Regions from separate parts of the Homo sapiens genome. Here all the other regions are linked to region 4. Evidence: fine-mapped expression QTL. A gene starts in region 4. Each other region holds a variant in brackets. All regions are shown on one strand. Distances are between the middles of the regions.

The links. PIP is the estimated chance that this variant, and not a neighbour inherited with it, causes the effect. A credible set is the group of variants that fine-mapping cannot tell apart.
Region 1: its variant is the best candidate, but not a certain one, in a credible set for the expression of TSC22D4 in whole blood (TOPMed, PIP 0.76).
Region 2: its variant is the best candidate, but not a certain one, in a credible set for the expression of TSC22D4 in blood mononuclear cells (TOPMed, PIP 0.54).
Region 3: its variant is the best candidate, but not a certain one, in a credible set for the expression of TSC22D4 in whole blood (TOPMed, PIP 0.53).

Annotation. Positions count from the first base shown.
Region 1 is chr7:100,321,112-100,327,237 of GRCh38, forward strand. SPDYE3 (speedy/RINGO cell cycle regulator family member E3) reads left to right here. Exons shown (of 11, transcript NM_001004351.5): 11 at 1-1,085. It also overlaps the pseudogene PMS2P1. Among named protein-coding and RNA genes, the nearest start is that of STAG3L5P-PVRIG2P-PILRB, 12 kb to the right of the region's middle. The variant A/C (reference allele first, on the strand shown) is at 2,509.
Region 2 is chr7:100,041,172-100,047,297 of GRCh38, forward strand. ZKSCAN1 (zinc finger with KRAB and SCAN domains 1) reads left to right here. Exons shown (of 6, transcript NM_003439.4): 6 at 1-518. Among named protein-coding and RNA genes, the nearest start is that of ZSCAN21, 5.5 kb to the right of the region's middle. The variant C/G (reference allele first, on the strand shown) is at 2,696.
Region 3 is chr7:100,204,613-100,209,612 of GRCh38, forward strand. It overlaps STAG3 (STAG3 cohesin complex component), which reads left to right. Exons shown (of 34, transcript NM_001282717.2): 27 at 15-163; 28 at 393-521; 29 at 615-772. It also overlaps the pseudogene CASTOR3P. Among named protein-coding and RNA genes, the nearest start is that of PVRIG, 13 kb to the right of the region's middle. The variant C/T (reference allele first, on the strand shown) is at 2,004.
Region 4 is chr7:100,475,975-100,482,100 of GRCh38, forward strand. TSC22D4 (TSC22 domain family member 4) reads right to left here and starts at 3,240. Exons shown (of 5, transcript NM_030935.5): 1 at 2,820-3,240; 2 at 1,303-2,333. The coding sequence starts at 2,064. It overlaps TSC22D4-C7ORF61 (TSC22D4-C7orf61 readthrough), which reads right to left and starts at 3,240. Exons shown (of 6, transcript NM_001395846.1): 1 at 2,820-3,240; 2 at 1,303-2,333. The coding sequence starts at 2,064. RefSeq lists enhancers at 2,876-2,945, 3,646-3,755 and a silencer at 3,396-3,555.

The sequences.
Region 1 (6,126 bases), 150 kb before region 4:
GTTTCCAGTTCCACCCTTTCCTGCGGCACCACCTCCCTTTTTATATTGCTGAATGCCAACCTCCCTGGGGCGGAACCTGGAGGTCCTGTTTCTTACGGACTTGGTTGCCACAGTCCAGGAGCATTTGAAGGCACAGTGCAGGGGCTCAGATTGGCACAGAATTCTTTGTGAAATATGAGTGCCACAGACTGTAACAGATAGCTTCATGCACACTATGCATTTTATTGGTTTGTTTGGAAAATGTTGGCCATTGAATCATTAATAGGTTTATTTCAAATAGTTTGGAAATTGTTGTACTTTTGAAAACATGCTGTTCCTGTAGAGTTTTTTGATGAGAGTTATAGTTGTTATATATACATAAAGATAATTTTCTTTTCATTTTTAAGTGAGAATTCTTTTTATCCTAAATCTTTTATTATCTTTAAATTTTTCTCTGTATTATTATATGTGCTCCTGAAGCGAGCACTCTTTTTATCTATGATACTTCCATAATAATCTCTTCTATTTATAGCTATTGGTAGTTCCCCCAAATTCTGGTCATAGAAATTTTTATTTGCTGTTTAGGTTTGTGACTGAATTGTGAGAATTCAGTTGTGATTTTTAACATGTCTTAGATATATATACTAACATGTCTAATATATACTATCTATTTTATTGATTTATTTCGAAAAAGATGGGCAAAGAATTATTTAAATATTATTTTATTTATTTAAATATTTATTAAATATATTTATTTATTTAAATATTTATTAAATATATTTATTTATTTAAATGTTATTACTTTAAATATTATTTTAAATATTTTGGAAATACTGGTATTTTTGAATAGATGCTGTTTCTATAAAGCTGTGTGATGGGTATTATAACTGTTATATACACATAAATATAATTTTGTTTTCCTTTTTAAGAGAGGATTCTTTTTATCCTAAATCTTTTACCTTTCAATCTTTGTATCTATTACTACATATGCTGCTGAAGGGAGCAGACTTTTTATCTATGATACTTAGTTAATGTATATATTACATTTATAGCTATGTGGTAGTTCCCCTAAATTCTTGTAAAAATAAATTTTTATTTGATATTTAGTGTATGTTTGAAATGTGAGAATTCAGATGGAATTTTTTATCTTGTTTTGGCATGTTTGTATGTTACTTTAAAGAGGATGTGTGTTCTAAAGGAGGACATGAGCTGTGTGTTTTCAAGAGAACAGTGCAGTGCATCTCTTGGGGAAACATAATAAAGATGAACTTTTCTCACCTTCACAGTGAGTGTGATCATATTGTGGTCTGGATTGATTATTTGCTGTCAAGTGACATTTTTCCTTAATGGGGTTGTGGTTATTTGAACATATTTATTAGCTCTGGAAGATAATCCTGTGTTGTTTTTTATGTAGAAAAAAACATAAGGCTGGGTGCAGTGCTCACACCTACAATCCCAGCAGTTTTGGAGGTCATGGCGGGAGGATCACTTGAAGCCTATTTTTAATTTTTATTTTTTAAAGAAAAACAATAGAAGAGAAGGCTGATCCCAAGCTACAGGGTTTTTTTGTTTGTTTGTTTGTTTGTTTTGGAGACAGTCTCGCTCTGTCTCCCAGGCTGGAGTGCAGTGGCACAACCTCGGCTCCCTGCAACTTTCACCTCCGCGTTCAAGCAAATTCTCCTGCCTCAGCCTCCCAAGTAGCTGGGACTACAGGCACCCGCCTGTACGTCTGACTAACTTTTGTAAAAATAGTAGAGACAAGGTTTCACCATGTTGGCCAGGCTGGTCTCAAACTCCTGACCTCAAGTGATCCACCCGCCTCAGTCTCCCAAAGTGCTGGGATTATAGGCATGAGCTACTGCGCCCAGACCCCAGGCTAGAGTTTTAAAGCAGGAAATGAGAGAAAGATATTGAGAGAGGAAAACCAGGTGGTAAGAAAACTCTAAAGGTGGCTGGGCGTGGTGGCTCACGCCTGTGATCCCAGCAGGAGTTCGAGACCAGGCAGGAGAATCACCAGCAGAGAATATGTCTCCCCAACCCCTCTCAAAAAAAAAAAAAAAAAAAAGGGCCAGGCGCGGTGGCTCAGGACTGTAATCCCAGCACTTTGGGAGGCTGAGGCGGGCGGATCACAAGGTCAGGAGATCAAGACCATCCTGGCTAATATGGTGAAACCCCATCTCTGCTAAAAATACAAAAAATTAGCTGGGCGCGGTGGCAGGCGCCTATAGTCCCAGCTACTCCGGAGGCTGAGGCAGGAGAATGGTGTGAACCCAGGAGGTGGAGCCTGCAGTGAGCTGAGATCGCGCCACTGCACTCCAGCCTGGGTGACAGAGCGAGACTCCATCACAAAAAAAAAAAGAAAAAAAAGAAAAAAAGAAAGTTCCTGCAACAGTTCAAGCTGTGAAAGACAGGCGCTCTGCCATGCAATTCTTTGTGATTTTTCTTTTTTATTTTTGGAGTCGGGGTCTTGTGCTGTCACCCAGACTGGGGTGCAGTGGTGCGGTCACAGCTCACTGCGGGCTCAGACTG[A/C]AGCTCAAGCGATCTTCTTATCTTGCCTTTCTAATTGCTGGGATTATAAGCATGAGCCACTGCACCTGGCCTGTGTGACGTAATTCTGATGTCAACTCCCTGATGTTACATCAAATGCTACAGGTTAAGGCCACCAGCCCCCGCTAGGCTGCCCTCGCTTCAGATGCAGCTGCAAGCTTGGGTGTCCACAGACTGCATGTACTTCTCACCAACTGGCTGCAAATTTGGAGGTTCCCACCACGTCCTCAGGTTTGATAATTCACTATAACAACCCACAGAACTCTGAAAAGCATGATACTTTCTCTTTCTTTATTTGAGACAGAGTCTTGCTCTGTCGCCCAGGCTGGAGTGCAGCGGCCACCATGCTTGGCTAATTTTAGTATTTGTATTAGAGACAGGGTTTCGCCATGTTGGCCAGGCTGGTCTTGAACTCCTGACCTCAGGTGATCCGCCCACCTTGGCCTCCCAAAGTGCTGGGATTACAGGCATAGCCACCGTGCCTGGCTGACTTCTAGAGTTTCAATAACAGAGATGTGGTTCAAGAAGAAAAGGGAGACATGTTTTGTAGACAGCAGGAGCTTCATGAAAAGAAGCCAATGAAGGGCAGGATGTGTAGCTGTCTACCTACAGGAAACCAGCCAGGAGCCTCCCCGCAGGGAGTTCAGCACAGACGGCCGGGAAAATCTGCATTAACCTGAGCTCTGGACCTAAGAGAGGACAAGGCCTTGACTGTTTCTACAGACTCACAAGACGCAATCTCTGCGGTCCATGCCCGTGGTGTGATCTGGGAAACAGGGGGCCTTCTAAATGCCAACAACAAGGAAATCAAATGCGCAACAGACAGAAATACCGGCATTGACGCGGGCCATGGAGAGGCCTAAACAGATGACTGCAGTCCACTGCCAAGGTCATCAAAGGGGTGACTCTGAAATAAGAAATTTCAGACGCCACGGCCCAAATAGCTGCACGAGGTGGGGAAGTCCTCCACATGCCTCTGCTTCCTTCAGTACCTCTTCATGAAATAAGCGGAGGTACTTCCCTGGGGAATTTCCTTTCTCTTTCTTTCTTTCGAGACAGAGTCTTGCTCTGTCGCCCAGGCTAGAGTGCAGTGGCGCGATCTCGGCTCACTGCAACCTCTCCCTCCCGGGTTTTGGCAATTCTTCTGTCTCAGACTTCTGAGTAGCTGAGATTACAGGTGTGTGCCACCATGCCCAGCTAATATTTGTATTTTTACTCGAGACAGGGTTTCACCATCTAGGCCAGGCTGGTCTTGAACTCCTGACCTCATGATCCACCCGTCTTGGCCTCCCAAAGTCCTGGGATTACAGGCACGAGCCACCGCACCCAGACTTCTTTATTTTTTGAGATGAAGTTTCGCTCTTGTTGCCCAGGCTGGAGTGCAATGGCGAGATCTCAGCTCACTGCCACCTCCACCTCCCAGGTTCAAGTGATTATCCTGCCTCAGCCTCCCGAGTAGCTGGGATTACAGGCACCCAACACCAAACCCAGCTAACTTTTTGTATTTTTAGTAGAGATGGAATGTCACCATGTTGGCCAGGATGGTCTTGAACCCCTGACCTCTAATGATCTACCCGAATTGGTCTCCCAAAATGCTGGGATTACAGGCGTGAGCCACTGTGCCCAGCCCCTCCCATACCTCTTTTGGCCAAGGCAGTACAATTCAGAGAATCTTGCCAGGGAAGACTGGTAAATGGACGTCAACATGATGCCTATGGCTCCTGGTGGATTTAGATACCTCCTGGTGCTTACTGATACCTTTACCAGTTACATGGGGGCTTTTCCATGCCAGACTGAAAATGCAGGAGATCACTGATCAACCTTCAACTATTTACTAGCAGAACACTGAGGGGACTCTGCAGTCACCAATATCTCCTATTGCACTTGGATAAACACCTCCCGGGAAATAGAGATGAATAGAAAGGAAATAGTCAAACAAGCAGAATGGCTACATTCCTTCAACCAGAAGGGTCCATTAGTCTGTTTTCACACTGCTATAAAGAACTACTGGAAACTGGGGAATTTATGAAGAAAACAGGTTTAATTGACTCACAGTTCTGCAGGCTGTACAGGAAGCATGGCTGGGGAGGCCTCAGGAAACTGACAATCACGGCAGAAGGCGAAGGGGAAGCAGGCACGTTTCTGGCCATGGTGGAGCAGGAGAGACAGAGAGAGTGAAGCGGGAGGTGGTGCATGCTTCTAAACAACCAGATCCCATGAGCGCTCACTCACTATCATGAGAACAGCAAGGGGGACGTCAGCCGCCATGAGCCAATCACCTCCTACCAGGTCCCTCCCTCAACACTGGGAATTGCAATTTGACATGAGATTTGGGTGGGGATACGGAGCTGAACCATATCAAGGGTAGTACAACCACTGAGATTGATTGACTGAGATGGAGTCCCGCTCTGTTACCTAGGCTGGAGTGCAGTGGCACAATCTCGGCTCACTGCAACCTCCGCCTCCCAGGTTCAAGCAATTCTCCTGCCTCAGCCTCCCTAGTAGCTGGGACTACAGCACACGCCACCACACCTGGCTAATTTTTGTATTTTCAGTAGAGACGGGGTTTCACCATGTTTGCCAGGCTGGTCTTGAACTCCTGACCTCGTGATCACCCTGCCTCGGCTCTTCTTTTGCTGGAATTACAGGCGTGAGCCACCGCACCTGGCCAACCACTGAGATTTAGAAGGCAGTCGAGTCCACTATACCACACCTCACCTGGTTTCTTCCTCTGTTGGGGCGCCTCGTGGCCACTGTTCTGTTACTTTTTGGTCCTATTTATTTAAATGGATGGTGAGCTGTTTGTCCTCCAGGATCCAACACTTCCACCTTCAGCTTGTATTACAACAATACCAGCCTTTCAAGCTACTCCAGGTGACCCCAGAACTCATTTGAACTCAGAAGCCCAAGAGTTTCATTCCTCTCACTTTAGGGGACTAAGTGCCCCTAGTCAGCATGAAGTCGATACAGAAGCATGACCTCCATCCCTAATCCCTCAAGAATGAGGAGTGGAAGGTGTCGGCAGGAGGGTGGGACGCGGTTTGTAAATCTGTAACTGCATCAGACCAAATCTAGTTCAACTTTTTTTTTTTTTTTTTTTGATGGAGTTTCGCTCTTGTCACCCAGGCTGGAGTGCAATGGCACGATCTCAGCTCACTGCAACCTCCACGTCCTAGGTTCAAGCATTCTGCTGCCTCAGCCTCTGGGGTAGCTGGGATTACAAGGGTGCGCCACCACGCCTGGCTAATATTTATATTTTTAGTAGAGACGGGGTTTCACCATTTTGGCCAGGCTGGTCTTGAACTCCTCGACCTCAGGTGATCCACCTGCCTTGGCCTCCCAAAGTGCTGGGATTACAGGCGTGAGTCACCGCACCCGAATCAGTTCAACTTTTATGTAATGAAGTTGTCAGTTGTTTTTCAATTGCCATCGACCCGCAGGTTGAAGGTCATGTACCCTGTGCATGCCCAGGTTAACCAAGCGTGCCACCGTGGAGTGGAACCTAAGAGCTCAGCCTGAAGAGCTCGGACCGATTTAAGAACCAGACACCCCAAGGCAGGAGCCAGGATCCAATCAGATTGAGTTTTGGCGTCACCCCAT
Region 2 (6,126 bases), 430 kb before region 4:
CAGCTTCTTCGTTTAGAATAAATTAGACCAAAAGAAGAAACGTGCTTGTCTCTGTATACCCGCAGAATGAAGTTACTGTTGTTAAAACTGGATTTTTTCATTTTACTAGGTTCCGAAGAGTCCAGATGCTTGGTAGATGTTCAATACGTGATTTTTTTTTTAATTGAATGTGTTCATTTAAAATCCTCCTTAACATTTCTAGAAAGACTTCTTTCAATAAATAATGGAATCTTAGAGGAAAAGTGGTTTTTTAAAAGCTAGGGAACTCCTCCACTAAAAGTAACCATTGGAAACCTCGAATGAGGGCTAAAGTTTTAATCATAAGAGAAAAGGCAGCATAATGAAATGTGTACACATACATAGTCAGTGGTCCATTTTAGGAAGCCAGTGGCGTCTGATAAAGAAATGTTAAGAGTAGTGAGGTTGAGGAAGGAAATTGTGGGGATTTGAAATATTCTCTTTATGTTGTTTCTCTTCTGAGTCATGGTAAAACAATAAATTATCATCTCTAGGTGGCAGTGCTTGTGCTGGTTTGTTTTTTGTTCTTTGTTTTTCTCATCCTTGGTTGCATAAATACACATTGGGGGTGAAGAAAAAAAAGTATTCCAAAGTTAAAAGACTGGAGCTGCAACCCACAAACAAAATTCTCATGCAAAACTATCTGTTTACTTTGCAAACCAAAATTAAATTTCAAAGGCCACCCAGTCACCTGAATGGACCTCTCCTCTCAGCCAAGGGCATTCCAAAGTTAACCTGAAAAACTAGTTCAGGCCATGATGGGAAGGGGGAGCCAAACATGCCTCATTATACCCTCTCCCCATATGGAATTACTGATAACAACAGACTCTTTAAGACTGATAGACATGGCCAGCCATGGTGGCTTATGCCTGTAATCCCTGCAGTTTGGGAGGCCGAGGCAGGCAGATCACCTGAGGCCAGGAGTTCGAAACCAGCCTGGCCAACATGGTGAAACCCCCTCTCTACTAAAAATACAAAAATTAACCAGGCGTGGTGGCGGGCGCCTGTAGTCCCAGCTACTCGGGAGGCTGAGCCAGGAGAATCACTTGAACCCAGGAGGGGGAGGTTGCAGTGAGCCGAGATCGCACCACTGCACTCCAGCTTGGGCAACAGAGTGAGACTTTGTCTCAAAAAAAAAAAAAAAAAAAAGGTGAACTGGGAGGATGTGAGGTTGTGTCCAGGAGGCATCCAAACACATCTCTGACTGTTTTTACTCACACTTCTGACACAATGTGGGATTTTTTTTCATACACCAACCAATTCTCTGGACACCAACTGGGTGCCATACGATTCAATTCAATTCTGACACTACCTGTAACTGATGCAGACTCCACAGGTTGTGGGCTCAGTCCCTCAAGACTGCCCCCATTTCAGACGCCAGTCTTACATTCCGGGTTTTCACCTGTGCTTTGGACCGGCTATAAATCAAGGGCTTCCACAATCTTCTCCTCAGTCTCAGGTTTGATAATTTGCTGGGATGGCTCATAGGTCTCATATATATTTTTATTATATATACACATGTGTATGTGTATATGTGTATAGATACACGTGTGTGTGTGTGTGTGTGTGTGTATACGAATACACCACCACACCCAGGTAATTTTTGGGTTTTTTTTTTTTTTTTTTTAGACGGAGTCTCGCTCTGTCTCCCAGGCTGGCGTGCAGTGGCGCCATCTCGGCTCACTGCAAGCTCCGCCTCCCGGGTTCCCGCCATTCTCTTGCCTCAGCCTCCCGAGTAGCTGGGACTACAGGCGCCCGCCACTGTGCCCGGCTAACTTTTTTTGTATGTTTTAGTAGAGACGGGGTTTCATAGTGTTAGCCAGGATGGTCTCGATCTCCTGACCTCATGATCTGCCTGCCTAGGCCTCCCAAAGTGCTGGGATTACAGGCGTGAGCCACCGCACCTGGCCTTTTTTGGGTATTTTTTGTAGTGACAGTCTGGCTATTTCCCAAGCTGGTCTTGAACTCTTGGGCTCAAGTGATCTGCCTGCCTTGGCCTCACAGGTGTGAGCCACCACACCCAGCCCTATTTTTTCTTAATAATTATTTTTTCTTTTATAGAGATGGGGGTCCCCCTATGTTGCCCAGGCTGGTCTCGAACTCCTGTCCTCAAGCAATCCTCCCACCTTGGCCTCCCAAAGTGCTGGGATTACAGGCGTGAGCCACTGTGCCCGACCCAGAACTGGATTTTATTTTTCTTTATTTTTGTAAGACAAGTCTCGTTCTGTTGCTCAGGCTGGAGTGCAGTGGCACGATTGTGGCTCACTGCAACCTCAACCTCCTGGACTCAAGCAATCCTCCTATTTCAGCCTCAGCTGGGACTACAGGCATGCATCACTACGCCTAGATTTTTTTTTAATTTTTTGCAGAGACAGGGTCTTGCTATGTTGCCCAGGCTGGTCTCAAATTCCTGGGCCTCAAGCAATCCTCCCACCTCAGCTTCCCGAAGTGCTGGGATTATATTCATGAGCCACCATGCAAGGGCCTAAAATCCAGTTTTAGCAAGAACCCTGCTAAGTTTAGCAAAAACCTCCCACCCTCCATATCTACTTAGGCTTTTTTCTTTTTCTTTTCTTTCTTGATTTTTTTTTTTTTTTTTTTTTTTTTTTTGGAGACAGAATCTCTCTCTGTTGCCCAAGCTGGAGGGCATGATCTCAGCTCACTGCAACCTCCACCC[C/G]CTGGGTTCAAGTGATTCTCCTGACTCAGCCTCCCGAGTAGCTGGGACTACAGGTGCACACCACTACACCCAGCTAATTTTTGTATTTTTTTTAGAGACGGGGTTTCGCCATGTTGGCCAGGCTGGTCTCGAACTCCTGACTTCAAGTGATCCACCTGCCTCAGCCTCCCAGGGTGCTGGGATGACAGGCGTGAGCCACCGCTCCCAGCCCATATCTAATTACTCTTGATATTTATCTGGTCAGGTTCCTTGTCCTCCACCATCCCCCAGGCGATGTCTGATCAGCCTGGCCTGTGTTCAGCAAGAATACCCCTTCCCTCTGATGTTTCCTCTTGATCATTTTCCATACACTGACCCCCATCCTGCTCCTTGGCTATAAATTGCCACTTGCCCATGCTGTGTTCAGAGCTGAGCCCAATCTCTCTCCCCTCACTGCAAGACCCCACTGCAGTGGTTCCTGTATTTATTAGGATGGTCCTGAATAAAGTCTTCCTTACCATGCTTTAACAAGTAGCACTGAGCCGGGCATGGTGGCTCACGCCTGTAATCCCAGCACTTTGGGAGGCTGAGGCAGGCGGATCACGAGGTCGGGAGATCGAGACCATCCTGGCTAACACGGTGAAACTCCGTCTCTACTAAAAAAAATACAAAAAAATAAAATAAAATTAGCCAGGCGTGGTGGCGGGTGCCTGTAGTCCCAGCTGCTCGGGAGGCTGAGGCAGGAGAATGGCGTGAACCCGGGAGGTGGAGCTTGCAATGAGCTGAGATCGTGCCACTGCACTCCAGCCTGGGTGATGGCGTGAGACTCTATCTCAAAAAAAAAAAAAAAAAAAAAAAAAGTAGCACTGAATAATTTTTTTCATGAAGTTTAACTCCACCATTCCACTTTCATTCTCTTTTCCTTTCAATTTCTTTAGCAAATGTCTTTGCAGCTTTCCAACATGCTGCACATGTCTTCTGCTTCCTGGAAGAAAAAGGACATGTTCGGAGTTGTCATGCGCCAGAGGCTTGCCCAGCCTGCTCTAAGGGAAGTCACGGTTTGGTTACCCTCTGCTGGCCAGCTGATGGCAGCAAAAATAGGTGATGATGAGAACGAGCGAGGAAGATCCAGAAATGCACCTTTTTAGAGAGAACCATGAACACCTTACTGGAAATGGAAGGAAGGTGCCAGAGACAACACTAAATGCTGGAATCTTTTCCTCTCCTGGGTTTCCGCTGCAAAGGGCACTGGAATTATTTTTCTTTTGTCAAGCCAATAATCTCCCAGGCATGGTGGTGTGCATCTGATCCCGCTACTTGGGAGGCTGAGGCAGGAGGATTGCTTGAGCACAGGAATTCTCGACCAGCCTGGGCAACATGGCGAAACCCCTACGAAACATTTTTTCAAAAAATAGGTGCGGTGCGGGTGCGGTGGCTCACGCCTGTAATCCCAGCACTTTAGGAGGCCGAGGTGGGCAGATCCTGAGGTCAGGAGATCCAGACCATCCTGCCCAACATGGTGAAACCCCATCTCTACTAAAAATACAAAAAGCTAGGTGTGATTGCGCATGCCTGCAATCCCAGCAACTTGGGAGGCTGAGGCAGGAGAATTGCTTCAACCAGGGAGTTGGAGGTTGCAGTGAGCCGAGATGGCGCCACTGCACTCCAGCCTGGCGACAGAGCAAGACTCAGTCTCACCAAAAAAAAAAAAAAAAAAAAAATTGTCCAGCATGGTGGCGTGCATGGGAATTATTTTTCTTTTGTGGTCCCAGCTACTCGGGAGGCTGAGGCAGCAGGATTGCTTGAGCCCAGGAGTTCTCTACCAGCCTGGGCAACATGGTAAAACCCCTAGAAATAATTTTTTAGGGGCTGGGCGCAGTGGCTCACGCCTGTAATCCCAGCACTTTGGGAGGCCGAGGCGGGTGGATCACGAGGTCAGGAGATCGAGATCATCCTGGCTAACACGGTGAAACCCCGTCTCTACTAAAAATACAAAAAATTAGCCGGGCATGGTGGCGGGTGCCTGTAGTCCCAGCTACCCGGGAGGCTGAGGCAGGAGAATGGTGTGAACCTGGGAGGCGGAGCTTGCAGTGAGCCGAGATCACGCCACTGCACTCCAGCCTGGGCGACAGAGCGAGACTCCGTCTCAAAAAAAAAAAAAAAAGAAATAATTTTTTAGAAAAATAGCCAGGCATGGTAGCATGTGCCTACTCGGGAGGCTGAGGTGGGAGGATCACTTGAGTCCAGGAGTTGGAGGCTGCAGTGAGCTATGATCACACCACTGCACTCCAGCCTGGGCAACAGAGTGAGGCCCTACCGCAAATAAATAAATAAAAATAAAAAATCTCTTGAGACACAGCAAGCACACAGGATTGGAGAATCTGGCTTGTGCTCTCAGCTTTGATACTAATTAGCTAACTAGTGTACCTTGGATCCGACTTCTTCAGGCACTGGTTTCTTCAACTGAAAACAAGAAACAAGAGTTTAACCAGATTGTCCTTAAGGTCTCTTTTGACGTTAATATTTTACAGCAGCTCTAAGCCCCTTTGCTTGAGGAGCATCTCAGCCCTGGAAAGGACAATGGGTTTGGAAATAGATGGATTTTCTTCAAGCCCCAGCATAACCACTTAATGGTTTCATAACTAGACAAAGACCCGTTGACCAAGAGGCTGAATGGAGCCCCACCAAAGCATCGACACAGGTGTGGCTCTTGAAATGTGTGTAGGTTTCCCGGTTCTTCCCTCTGTCCTGGTGATCCTGTTTCCATTTCCCATCTCTTTCTTCCCCGTCTAACTGAGAGGCAGTAGAGCACAGGCTTTGGAGAAAGGGGGCCAAGTTTCACTCCTGATGCTCCCACGTATCAGTTGTGTGATATTGGAAAAGTGACTTTTTGGAGCCTGTTTCCTGGTCTATAAAATGGAGATTTTGGGGCCAGGCACAGTGGCTCACGGTGGCTCCCAGCACTTTGGGAGGCTGAGGCAGGTGGATCACTTGAGGTCACGAGTTCAAGACCATGGGGGAATGAATTAAAAGGACTAACCATGTAACAATTGTTAAAGCTGGCCAATGTATATGGAGGCTTTTTTTTTTTTTTTGGTGAGACAGAGTCTCACTCTGTCACCAGGCTGTAGTGCAGGGGTGCAATCTCAGCTCACTGCAATGTCTGCCTCCTGGGTTCAAGCAATTGTCCTTCCTCAGCCACCCGAGTAGCTGGGATTACAGGCATGTGCCACCACACCCAGCTAATTTTTGTATTTTTAATAGAGACAGAGTTTCACCATGTTGGCCAGGATGGTCTCGATCTCTTGACCTTGTGATCCGCCTGCCTCAGCCTCCTAAAGTGCTGGGATTACAGGCGTGAGCCACCGTGCCCTGCCAAGGCTCATTTTTTTTTTTTTTTAAGAGAAAGCAAGTTTATTAGAGAAGTAAAGAAACAGCCGGGCACGGTGGCT
Region 3 (5,000 bases), 270 kb before region 4:
TCTCCTGGACACAGCTGTACACAGAACTGCTGCAGGAGCATGGGCCCCAGGGCCTGAATGAGCTTCCTGCCTTCATCGAGATGAGGGACCTGGCCCGGAGGTTTGCCTTGAGTTTTGGACCCCAGCAGCTGCAGAACCGTGACCTCGTGGTCATGCTACACAAGTAGGAAGTATTGGTTGCAGGTTGTGTCCAGGGAGGGCTGGGAACGAGGTCTTGGAGGGAGGTCTCGGAGGGAGGGTATGTGTGTCAAGGCATAGCAGTCAGGTTAGGGGTGGGTATGCCTTTGGAGACAAGCTGGGGACGGGGGGAGGGTGCATTTGGACAGGATAGCTCAGGCCTGGGAGGGAAGTGGGAAGAGACTTTCTTCCTAAAATAATTCTGCCCAACCAAGGGAAGGCATCCAGTTCTCCTTGTCTGAGCTTCCTCCAGCTGGCTCCTCCAATCAGCCTCCAAATCTGGCATTCCTGGAGCTCCTTTCAGAGTTTTCCCCCCGACTCTTCCATCAGGACAAGCAGCTTTTGTAAGTTGGTGGGTGGATAGAGATGTGGATTAGGGAAGGGCCTGCTGAGGGCCCAGTAGCCCCTTCAGGCTTTTGGTTCTACCTCTTTCATAGACTGTCCTATCTAGAAAAGTGCCTGCAGCATGTCTCCCAGGCACCTGGCCATCCCTGGGGCCCAGTCACCACCTACTGCCACTCCCTCAGCCCTGTGGAGAACACAGCAGAGACCAGCCCTCAGGTCCTCCCCAGCTCCAAGAGGAGGCGCGTTGAAGGTAGGGTGCTGTGTGTGGGTATGGGGGTGCCCAGCAGGTGGTCGTTGGCTGCCTGCAAACTTATTTTGTCAAGTATTTCATTGAGCATCTACTGTCATTCAGGGTATTAATTTCTTTCAAGGTTTATCTAGTCAACTGAAAACCTGTATTAAAAATCAAATAGAGGGCCAGGTGTGGTGGCTCATGCCTGCAATCCCAGCACTTTGGGAGGCCGAGGCAGGCGGCTCACGAGGTCAGGTGTTCGAGACCAGCCTGGCCAAGATGGTGAAACCCCGTCTCTACTAAAAATACAAAAATTAGCTGGGCATGGTGGCGCGCATCTGTAATCCCAACTACTCAGGAGGCTGAGGCAGGAGAATCACTTGAACCCGGGAGGCGGAGGTTGCCGTGAGCTGAGATTGCGCGACTGCACCCCAGCCTGGGTGACAGAGCGAGACTCTGTCTCAAAAAAAAAAAAAAGAAACTGATGATAAAACCAAATATTGAACTAAGAAATCTATACATTCAGAGTACCCTCCTCAACATCTTGTATTCCATTATTTTCGAAACCTTGGACACTTTTACACAACCTTCATTGTTTTTTACCTTCAGATCACCTGTTGTCTTATAAGTTGCCTAAGGTTTTGTTTTTGTTTTTGTTTATTTTTTGAGATGGAGTCTTGCTCTGTTGCCCAGGCTGGAGTGCAGTGGCGCCATCTCGGCTCACTGCAAGCTCTGCCTCCCAGGTTCACGCCATTCTCCTGCCTCAGCCTCCCGAGTAGCTGGGACTACAGGCACCCGCCACCACGCCTGGCTAATTTTTTTTGAATTTTTGGTAGAGATGGGTTTTCAGCATGTTAGCCAGGATGGTCTTGATCTCCTGACCTCATGATCTGCCTGCCTCAGCCTCCCAAAGTGCTGGGATTACAGGTGTGAGCCACTGTGCCTGGCTGCCTAAGGTTTTTTCTTTGCTTTTTAAAAAACAGCTTCATATTAAGCAACATTGTAGCAATCATTATTTCATATGCAAGTATGTGTTTTCTAGTGTACATTTTTAAATGGGACTTTATGTGACAGCTTTATTGAGATACAACTTACATATCATAAAAATCATTTTTTTTTTTTTGAGACGGAATCTCGCTCTGTCACCCAGGCTGGAGTCCAGTGGCGTGATCTCGACTCACTGCAACCTCCGCCTCCCACGTTCAAGTGGTTCTCCTCCCTCAGCCTCCTGAGTAGTTGGGATTACAGG[C/T]GTCCACCACCACCCCCAGCCAATTTTTGTATTTCTAGTAGAGACAGGGTTTCACCATGTTGGCCAGGCTGGTCTCAAACTCCTGACCTTGTGATCTGCCCACCTCAGCCTCCCAAAGTGCTCCCAAAGTGCTGGTGAGCCCCCGTGCCCAGCCAAAAATCACCCTTTTAAAGTGTACACTTAGCATATTCACTGAATTGTACAACCATCACAACTATCTAATTTTAGAACATTTTCATCTTTCCAAAAGAAACCACATACCCATTCGCAGTCTCTGCCCATCTTCCCAGCCTTAGGTAGTATCACTAATATAATTCCTATCTCTTGATTTGCCTACTCTGGACCTTTCATATAAATGGAATCATATAATATGTGGCCTTTTATGTCCAGCTTCTTTCACTTAGTACAGTGTTTTCAACGTTCATCCATACTTTGACATATATCAGTATCTCATACCTTTTTATGGCCGAAACAATATGCCATCGTGTGGATATGCCACATTCTACTTATCCACTTGTCAGTTGATTGACATTTGGGCTCTTTTATGCATAATGCTGCTAAACATGCATGTACACATTTTTGGGTGGATGCATCTTTTCAGTTATCTTGAGATATACCTGGGAGTGGAATTGCTGGTTCGTATGGCAATTCTATGTTTAAGTTTTTGAGGAACTACCACACTGTTTTCCAAAGTACCTACACCAGTTTACAATCCTACCAGCAATGTATGGGGACTCTGGTTTCTCCATGTTGTCACCGGTACTTATTAATGTCTTTTTTTATTTTATCCATCTCCTAGTAGCTGTGAGGTGTGGTATCTCATTGTGGTTTAAATTTGCATTTCCCTAATGACAAATGGTATTGAGCATCTTTTCATGTGCTTATTGACAATTTGTTTATCTTCTTTGGAGAAATGCCTGTTCTGATCCTTTAGCTATTTTAAAATAGGGTTGTCTTTTTATTGTTGAGTTGTAAGTATTCTTTATATATTCTAGACATGAGATTCCTTATGATATGCAAACATTTTCTCCCATTTTTTGGGTTGTCTTTTCGTGTTATTGGTGGTGTCCTTTGAAACACAAAAGTTCTTGAATTTGGTGAAATCTAACTTTTTCCTTTTGTTGCTTGTGCTTTTGGTGCCATATCTTGAGAAATTGTTGGCTAATTCATGAGGTCACAAAGATTTACTCCTGTGTTTTCTTCTAAGAGTTATAGTTTTAGCCGGGCATGGTGGCTCACGCCTGTAATCCCAGCACTTTGGGAGGCCGAGGCGGGCGGATCACGAGGTCAGGAGATTGAGACCATCCTGGCTAACACGGTGAAACCCCGTCTCTACTAAAAATACAAAAAATTAGCCAGGCATGATGGTGGGCGCCTGTAGTCCCAGCCACTCGGGAGGCTGAGGCAGGAGAATGGCGTGAACCCGGGAGGCGGAGCTTGCAGTGAGCCGAGATTGTTCCACTGCACTCCAACCTGGGCGAAAGAGCGAGATACTGTCTCAGAAAAAAAAAAAAAGTTATAGTTTTAGCTCTTAATTTAGATTTGTGATCCAGTTTGAGTTAATTTTTGTATATAGTGTGAGATGAGGTGTGATTTCCTTTTGTTGTCTTCTGTGTACCACCTAAAATTATGTCTTATACCACCAGGAAACTCTGCTTTAATTAATTAACTAATACATAGTTGTTAGGGACCTACTATATGAAAGATACTATGTTCAGTGTTTTAGGGGCCATGAAGAATCCAGCAGCTTATTATCTAATAGGAAAGGGAGAAATTTTAATTATGGAAAACTCGAATTATGAACAATTGCCAATAACTGCCTGAGGGCTTGTACAAGTGAATGCTGTAGAATTCAGAGAATGATGAGAGCTTTACCAAGAAGATGGAATTGCTGGAGCTTAAAAAATAAGTAAGATTTTTATAAGCTGAACAGAGGAAGGAGGAGCATCATGGGCTGGCAGAATAGCACAAGCAAAGCATAGAAGGCTGTGTGCTGGGCGAAGCATGGAGGTACATAGATCGCTCTGCCTAAAGCGTAGGGTTTGTGAAGGCAAGATAAAACTGAAGAGTTTGTTTTTATTCATTCAATAGATACTGAGCACCGTGTGCTGGGAATACAGCAGTGAACAAAAAAGCTAAACATCTCTTTCTTTAGAGAGTGTCAGATAGTAGTAAATACTATGGCAAAAAAGCAGGGAGGATTGTGAGGAATGCTGGCGGGGTGGGGATTGCAGTCTTACAAAGACTGATCAAGGGAAGACTCAACACAAATGTTGGGCAAAAAGCCTAAAAAATAAGTTAAAAGATACACTTAGGCACATTACAATTTTAACAGGTTTATTTGAGCATTCAGCAATTTTATCAATCAGGCAGTGGCAGACCGCCAGCAGTTCAGGGCGCCACCACCGAGGAAACCAGAGGGGACACTTACAAGGTGTCTCTGGGAGCAAGACAAAGAAACTATTTGATTGGTTAGAGTGGAAAGTTCATATTTAGAGGTTAACTGACCATAAATCTCTTGTTAGAGGTTAGTCGGTAGTTTCTGACTGGTTAAGCTGAAGTTTCCTGCTCCTAGGTTACACACAACACTTTCACTCTGAGTTGAGTTTCAGTTTGCTGACTTAGGAACCCAAAGTGCAGGAGCCATTTCAGCCTATTGGCCTCCCAGCGAATTTTTTATAACAGGTGAGGGAGGGTGCTTAGTGTGTATCAGAATAGCATACCAAAGGAAGCAGCCAGTCCTGAGGCCACGAGGGGATGGGGGGAATGTTCCTGGAATGTTCAAGGAACAGCAGAGAAGACCATTATGGCCAGAATGCAGATTGTAGGACATGAGACCAAAGAGGGTACAGGATCCCAGAGCATCTAAGGCAGAGACTGGCTTTTACTCTGAGTGCAGTAGGAAAACCATTGGAGGATTTTGAGGAACGACAGGATCAACCTCTGTTTTTAAAGGATCCTTCTGGCTGCTGTGTCGAAAACGACAGGAGATGGGGG
Region 4 (6,126 bases):
GGGCAAGGAAATAGCAAAACAGATGCGTGCAAACAGAAGACCGTCAGGAGGTGGGGGAAGGCTGGGGAGTAGGGGGCACTGAGAGAGAGAGGCAGGGTCTGTGGCCCCAAGAGAAGCTCAGGCCAGGCTTAAGGACAGAGAGCAGGGAAGCTGGAGGCCAAGGGGGTTTGCTTTGGAAGAGTCTGGGGACAGGACAGGAAGAGAAACAGCATCTTCTCCCCTGGGGTGGGTGCTGAATGCAAGAGTTCAAGAAGAGTTGGGGGAGGGGGGGTAGGAGGGGGCATCACGAGAGATGTGAGCTTGAGGCCAGGAGGGGTTTGGGGGGAGCCAGTCCTGACCGGTCCTGACAGGACCCAGACATCCAGTCCCAGGTTATTTTTATACTGTGGTTTGTGCCCAAGGCCAGGAAGGGGAAAGAGTTCGCATCCTCACACTCCCTGCCTTTCCCCAGACCTCCGAGGTGTTATATTCTCCCACAGGACAGAAGTATCCAACCTTCTATCTCTGGCTGCTCACCCCCACCATGGGGACCCAGGCATCCTGCCCCCACAGCCTGGCTTGTTCCTCTTTTGGAGACAGGAAGGAGAAAGAGTATGGGACTGAACTCCCTTCTGGGGCTCTTCTCTCCCACTCCACAGTGGTCACCCTCGAGTTATCAATCACAGAGAGGCTCAGATGGACGGGGGTGAGCCAGACAACTGGGGGGTGAAATGGATCAACCAGCAGGCCCCCTCCCTGTCCCTGAGAGGTGTTCCCCCCACCCAATTTCTCAGTGACACTTGGCTTACAGCAAAGCTGGAGGCAGGACTGAGATGGGTGGCTGGGGGAAAAGAAAGACCCCCACATTCAGGATGGGGCTGCAGTGCAGAGACTGGCAGCGCGCAAGGCCTACCTTTTACTTTTCCTCCCCAAATCCTGGCAGCTCCTCCCCTAGGGACCCAGCTACCCAGCTATCCAGCTGGGGCCTCCACCCTCATCACCTAGAGGCAGAGGGGCTGAGACCAAGACAGAAGAAGGCCTGATGAGGGGGCCACATATGCTACAGGCTACATGAAGACCAAGACAGAGAATCAGAGGCCAGGGAGAAAGAGAGAGGGTGCAGAAAAACAGGAAGGAGGCTGAGACAGAAAATGAAGTAGGAGGAAGGGGCTTCAGAGTGACCTGGCAGGCACAGAGAAGAGGGCTATCTGATCTTATAAAGTGATGGAGAAGGAGGAGGAGAGGGGGGGGAGGAGGAGGAAGGAGGCTCAAGATAGAGGTTAGGCCAGGGCTGATGGGCCAGCCCTAGAACCCAGGTCTTACCTGCCCCATCTCTTCTGGAGCACCCAACTCCATCCGCAGCCGCATGTCTACAGCTTTCCTCCGGGACAGTGGAGGGGTCCTGGCCCCTGAGCCCCCAGCCTCCGCTTCCACCCTCAGAGAGGGCAGGGGCGTGGCAGCCCGGGATGTGCCCGCACTCTCACCGGTCTCAGGCTCTGGGGGGCGCTGCTGGGGTGAGGAGGCCGACAGTGGGGGTTTCTCTGCCTTGGCTTTGCTGGGCACCACCAGCTGGCCCAGTCCCCCAGTGAAGGAGCGGGCCTGAGGTCCAGGAGAGGTGGGGGGTGGACGGAGCCAGGAGGTGGGGCCCTGAGACAGGCCTGACGGTGGGGTGGGGGCGCCCAGGCCGAGGCTGGCCAGCTCCAACCTGGAATCCAAAGATCTGCCCCCGGCGCCCCCTGAGGCCCCTCGAATTCCCTCCAGGAGTCCGCCGAAGCTGTGGGGCTCCAGGTCTCGCTCATAAACATCCACACACGTCCAGCGACCGCGGCGATAAGGCTCTCCCAGGCCGTGGGGCAGCTTCACCACCCGGAAACGGGAGGAAGGGGCCCCAGGTGGTGGGGAGCCATTCCGGGGGGTGCCCTTGCCCCCCGGATCGGGGCTGGGCTCCCCATTGGGCAGGCGGGGCGGGGGCCCGGTTGGGGGCTGTGGGGTAGGGGGATCCGAAGCCCCTGGGCTCCCAGGGCCCTCATAGTCCGTGGTGACGCTGGTGATTTGGAAACTACTCTTCTTCTTGCCCCCGCTCATGGTCCCTGGGGCTCAGGGCTGGGCCAAGGTTGGGGGTGGGTTGGGGCTCCTTGAAGGGGCTCAGGCACCCCTGGAACAAGGGGGCCACATGGCGGGGACATCCGAGCCCCTGGGGACGTCTGGGTCCGACATGGCAGGAGGGCCTGGCGGGAACCGGGGGTGCCTGCTGGGTGAGGGGAGAAGAGGAGAGGGGAGGTGGCGGGAGGGGGGAGCAGGGGCAGGTTTTTCCTGCTGCTGTTGCTGCTGAACTCCAGAGCTGAGTTTGCAAACTGGAAAAAGAGGGGGAGAGAGAGAGAGAGAGAGAGAGAGAGAGTGTGTGTGTGTGTGTGTGTGTGTGTGTGTGTGTGTGTGTGTGTGTGTGTGAAACCAGTGGGCAGGCCACCTCCGGGGCTTCCTCTCCGGGGAGCAGAGTGGGGGAAGGGGAAACCGTCAGAGACCCAGAGACAGGCAAGAGATGACAGAGACCAGGGCAGAGGGGACTGGATCCAAGAAGGCACTCAGAGTAGAAAGAGGCAGATGAGTCCCAGAGTTGGGCATTTCTCGCCTGGGATTCTGACTCAGGGGGCCCGTATTGTCCCAAGAGCTCGGACTCCAGGGCCTGGGAGAACCAGGCTGAAGCAGCTCCCCAGCCTGGCCCGGCCACTCAGAGAGACCTCTCCTGGGCCTCGAGCCCCCACCCTCACCCCAGCTCCCACATCTCTGGGGCAGGCCCTGCCCGGCTACCCCCCAGCGCCCCACCCAGCCCTGAACCCTACCTCTGGGGCCTCGGCCACTGATCTGAGCCTGAGGGTCCCGGCGCCTAAGAGGTCGGGCTGTCCGTTCCCTGGGGCCTCCTGGCCATGGGCAGTGGCGGGGCACGCAGGCGGCGATCAGAGGCTGTCCCGTCCTCTCCGGGGGCCGCGGCTCATCCTGCCAGGCATCTCCGAGGAAAGTTTGCTCTCCGGAAAAGAAGAAACCCGCGCCTCCTCCGAGGAGCCTAGGAGCGGCCTCTGAAGCCCCAAGGGTCTGGAGACTGATGTGGGAGGGGGCGGCCGAGCCCCCCTCTGCTCCCGGTGGCAGCCAGCGAGTGGGTGTCCCGAGTCTCCTCCCGCGTGACCCTGCTGGGTCCGTGTCTCCGCTCCTCGGCTCCCCTGGGTCTCTGCCTCTCCGTCTTTCTCTTTCTGGGCTGTTGACAACCCCCACACCAGGAAGTCCTGCCTCCTCGGGCCTGCTGACTGCTCCTCTCCTCCTCCTCCTCCTCCTTCCCCTCTTCCTCCCCTTCCTCCTCCCTCCCTCCCTCCTGGGGCTTCCCGCCAGCTGGCCCGGGGCCAGGCCTGCCACAGCCGCTGCTGTTGCAGTTGCTGCAGCCACTGCTTAGGCTGCTGCTCCTGGGGGCCCCAAACAGACTCCCTTAACCCCACACCTGCCGGGCCCTAGCCCCACTCTTGCAGGGAGGGGCTGCAGGGGGCGGGGCTCGGGGAGAAAGGGGAGGAGCTTGCAGGGAGGCGAGGGATTCCCTTACTTGTAGTCAATTGCTGCCATTGGCCTAGAGACACACAGAAGAGACGGAAGGCACAGGCCGGGAGGTGTGCTGCATGCCCACCCAGAAGTTCCCAGTCCCTGCTGTGGGGCAGCTGTGGCTGTTACTGTCATTCTCCTTTGGTTTTCACAGCAACTGCATTATTCCCCCCATTCCTTATTTTTAAAAGTGGATTATTGCCGGATCCCGGTGGTGGCTCATGCCTGTAATCTCCGCACTTTGGGAGGTCGAGGAAGGAGGATCGCTTGAGACCAGTTTGGACAATATAATAGCAAGACCCCATCTCTACAAAAAATAAAAAAAAATAGCTGGGCATGGTGATGTGCACCTATAATTCCAGCTACTCAAAGGTGGGAGGATCGCTTGAGCCCAGGAGTTCGTGACCAGCCTGGGCAATATAACGAGATCCCCATCTCTACAAAAAATTTAAAAAATTAGCACTTTGGGAGGCCGAGGCGGGCGGATCACGAGGTCAAGAGATTAAGACCATCCTGGCCAACATGGTGAAACCAAGTCTCTACTTAAAATACAAAAATTAGCCAGGTGTGGTGGCGGGCACCTGTAGTCCCAGCTACTCGGGAGGCTGAGGCAGGAGAATCACTTCAACCTGGGAGGCGGAGGTTGCAGTGAGTCGAGATCACGCCACTGCACTCCAGCCTGGTGACAGAGTGAGACTCCATCTTAAAAAAAAAAAAAAACTGAGTGTGGTGATGTATACCTGTAGTCCCAGCTACTCAGGAGGCTGTGAGGCAGGAGGATCTCTTGAGCCCAGGAGGTTGAGGATGCAGTGAGCCAAGATTGTGCCACTGCACTCCAGCCTGGGCAACAGAGTGAGACCATGTCTCAAAAAAAAAAAAAAAGTGGATTATTATGAAAATTTTCAAACATGCCATGCAGACATGGGGAGACCATGCAAACTCCACACAGATGGTGGTCCCAGCCCAAAATCAATTTTTAGAAAATCATCAATGTTATAATGAAATGACATTCAATGAAATGACATTGTGTGGGGGCCAGCTGTAGTTTGCTGGACTATTTGAAATCAGATCCTAGATGTTATACTATTCCCCTTTCCCCCAACCTGCCCCCGCCTTTTTTTTTAGAGACAGGGTCTCTCTCTCTCTCTGTTGCCCAGGATGGAGTGCAGTGGTGCGATCATAGCTCACCACAGCCTGGAACTCCTGGGCTCAAGCCATGCTCCTGCCTCAGCCTCCCAAGTAGCTGGGACCACAGACACACACTACTACGCCTGGCTAAATTTCTTTAAAAAAAAATTTTTTTTTTTGGTAGAGATGGGGATCTTGCAATGTTGCCCAGGGTGGTCTTGAACTCCCGGCCTCAAGTGATCCTCCTGCTTCTGCCTCCCTAGTAGCTGGGACCACAGGTGTATACCACCATACCTGGCTAATTTTTTAGTTTTTGTAGAGACAGGTTATTACTATGTTGCCCAGGCTGGTCTCGAATTCCTGGCCTCAAATGATACTTCCACCTGGGCCTCCCAAAGAGCTGACATTACAGGCGTGAGCCATGGTGCCTGGCCTCAGGGAAATTTCTAACCCCTCTTTTTTTGAGACGGAGTCTCGCTCTGTCGCCCAGGCTGGAGTGCAGTGGCTCTATCTCGGCTCACTGCAAGCTCCACCTCCCGGGTTCACGCCATTCTCCTGCCTCAGCCTGTAGCTGGGACTACAGGCACCCGCCACCATGCCCGGCTAATTTTTTGTATTTTTACTAGAGACGGGGTTTCCCCGTGTTAGCCAGGATGGTCTTGATCTCCTGACCTCGTGATCCGCCCGCCTCGGCCTCCCAAAGTGCTGGGATTACAGGCATAAGCCACCACGCCCGGCCTCTAACCCCTCTTTAGGGGTACGTAAAAATAAAACAATGCAATACCTACCCTCTTTATGTATTTATTCTTTATCTCTTTGTTAGAAGCATCCACACTTCTGTTTCTCTCCCTTAAGCCATAGTAACAACGGCTGCCATAGCCCAAGTCTGTGGGCCTCCCAAGTAGTGAAGTCTGGGAAGCAGCCTCCCACCTGCTCCCTACCCCTCTAGACTGCATCCCTCTGTCCCTTACAGAACCTTTTCTCCTCTAGCAACATTCAGAACACAGCCTTGGTCCCTCCTTCCCCAGACCCTCCTTCCTTCTTGCTGACTTGCTACAAACTATTCAAAAATTATCTTTGGGCAGTCTCTTTCTCTGCCTCAGGCACTGGTATCTGAGTCTAGAGGCCCTGGCACATTGTTGATCTCTGCAGAAATGTTTGTTGAGTAAATACATACAAATTTTTATATTTTAATTTGAGATGAAGTCTTGCTCTGTCACCCAAGCTGAAGTGCAGTGGCGTGATCTCAGCTCACTGAACCTCCGCCTCCCAGGTTGTGATTCTCCTGCCTCAGCCTCCCGAGTAGCCAGGATTGTAGGCACCCGCCACGACGCCTGGCTAATTTTTGTAGTTTTAGTAGAGATGGGCGTCTCATCATGTTGGCCAGGCTGGTCTCGAACTCCTGACCTCAAGTGATCTGCATGCCTCAGACTCCCA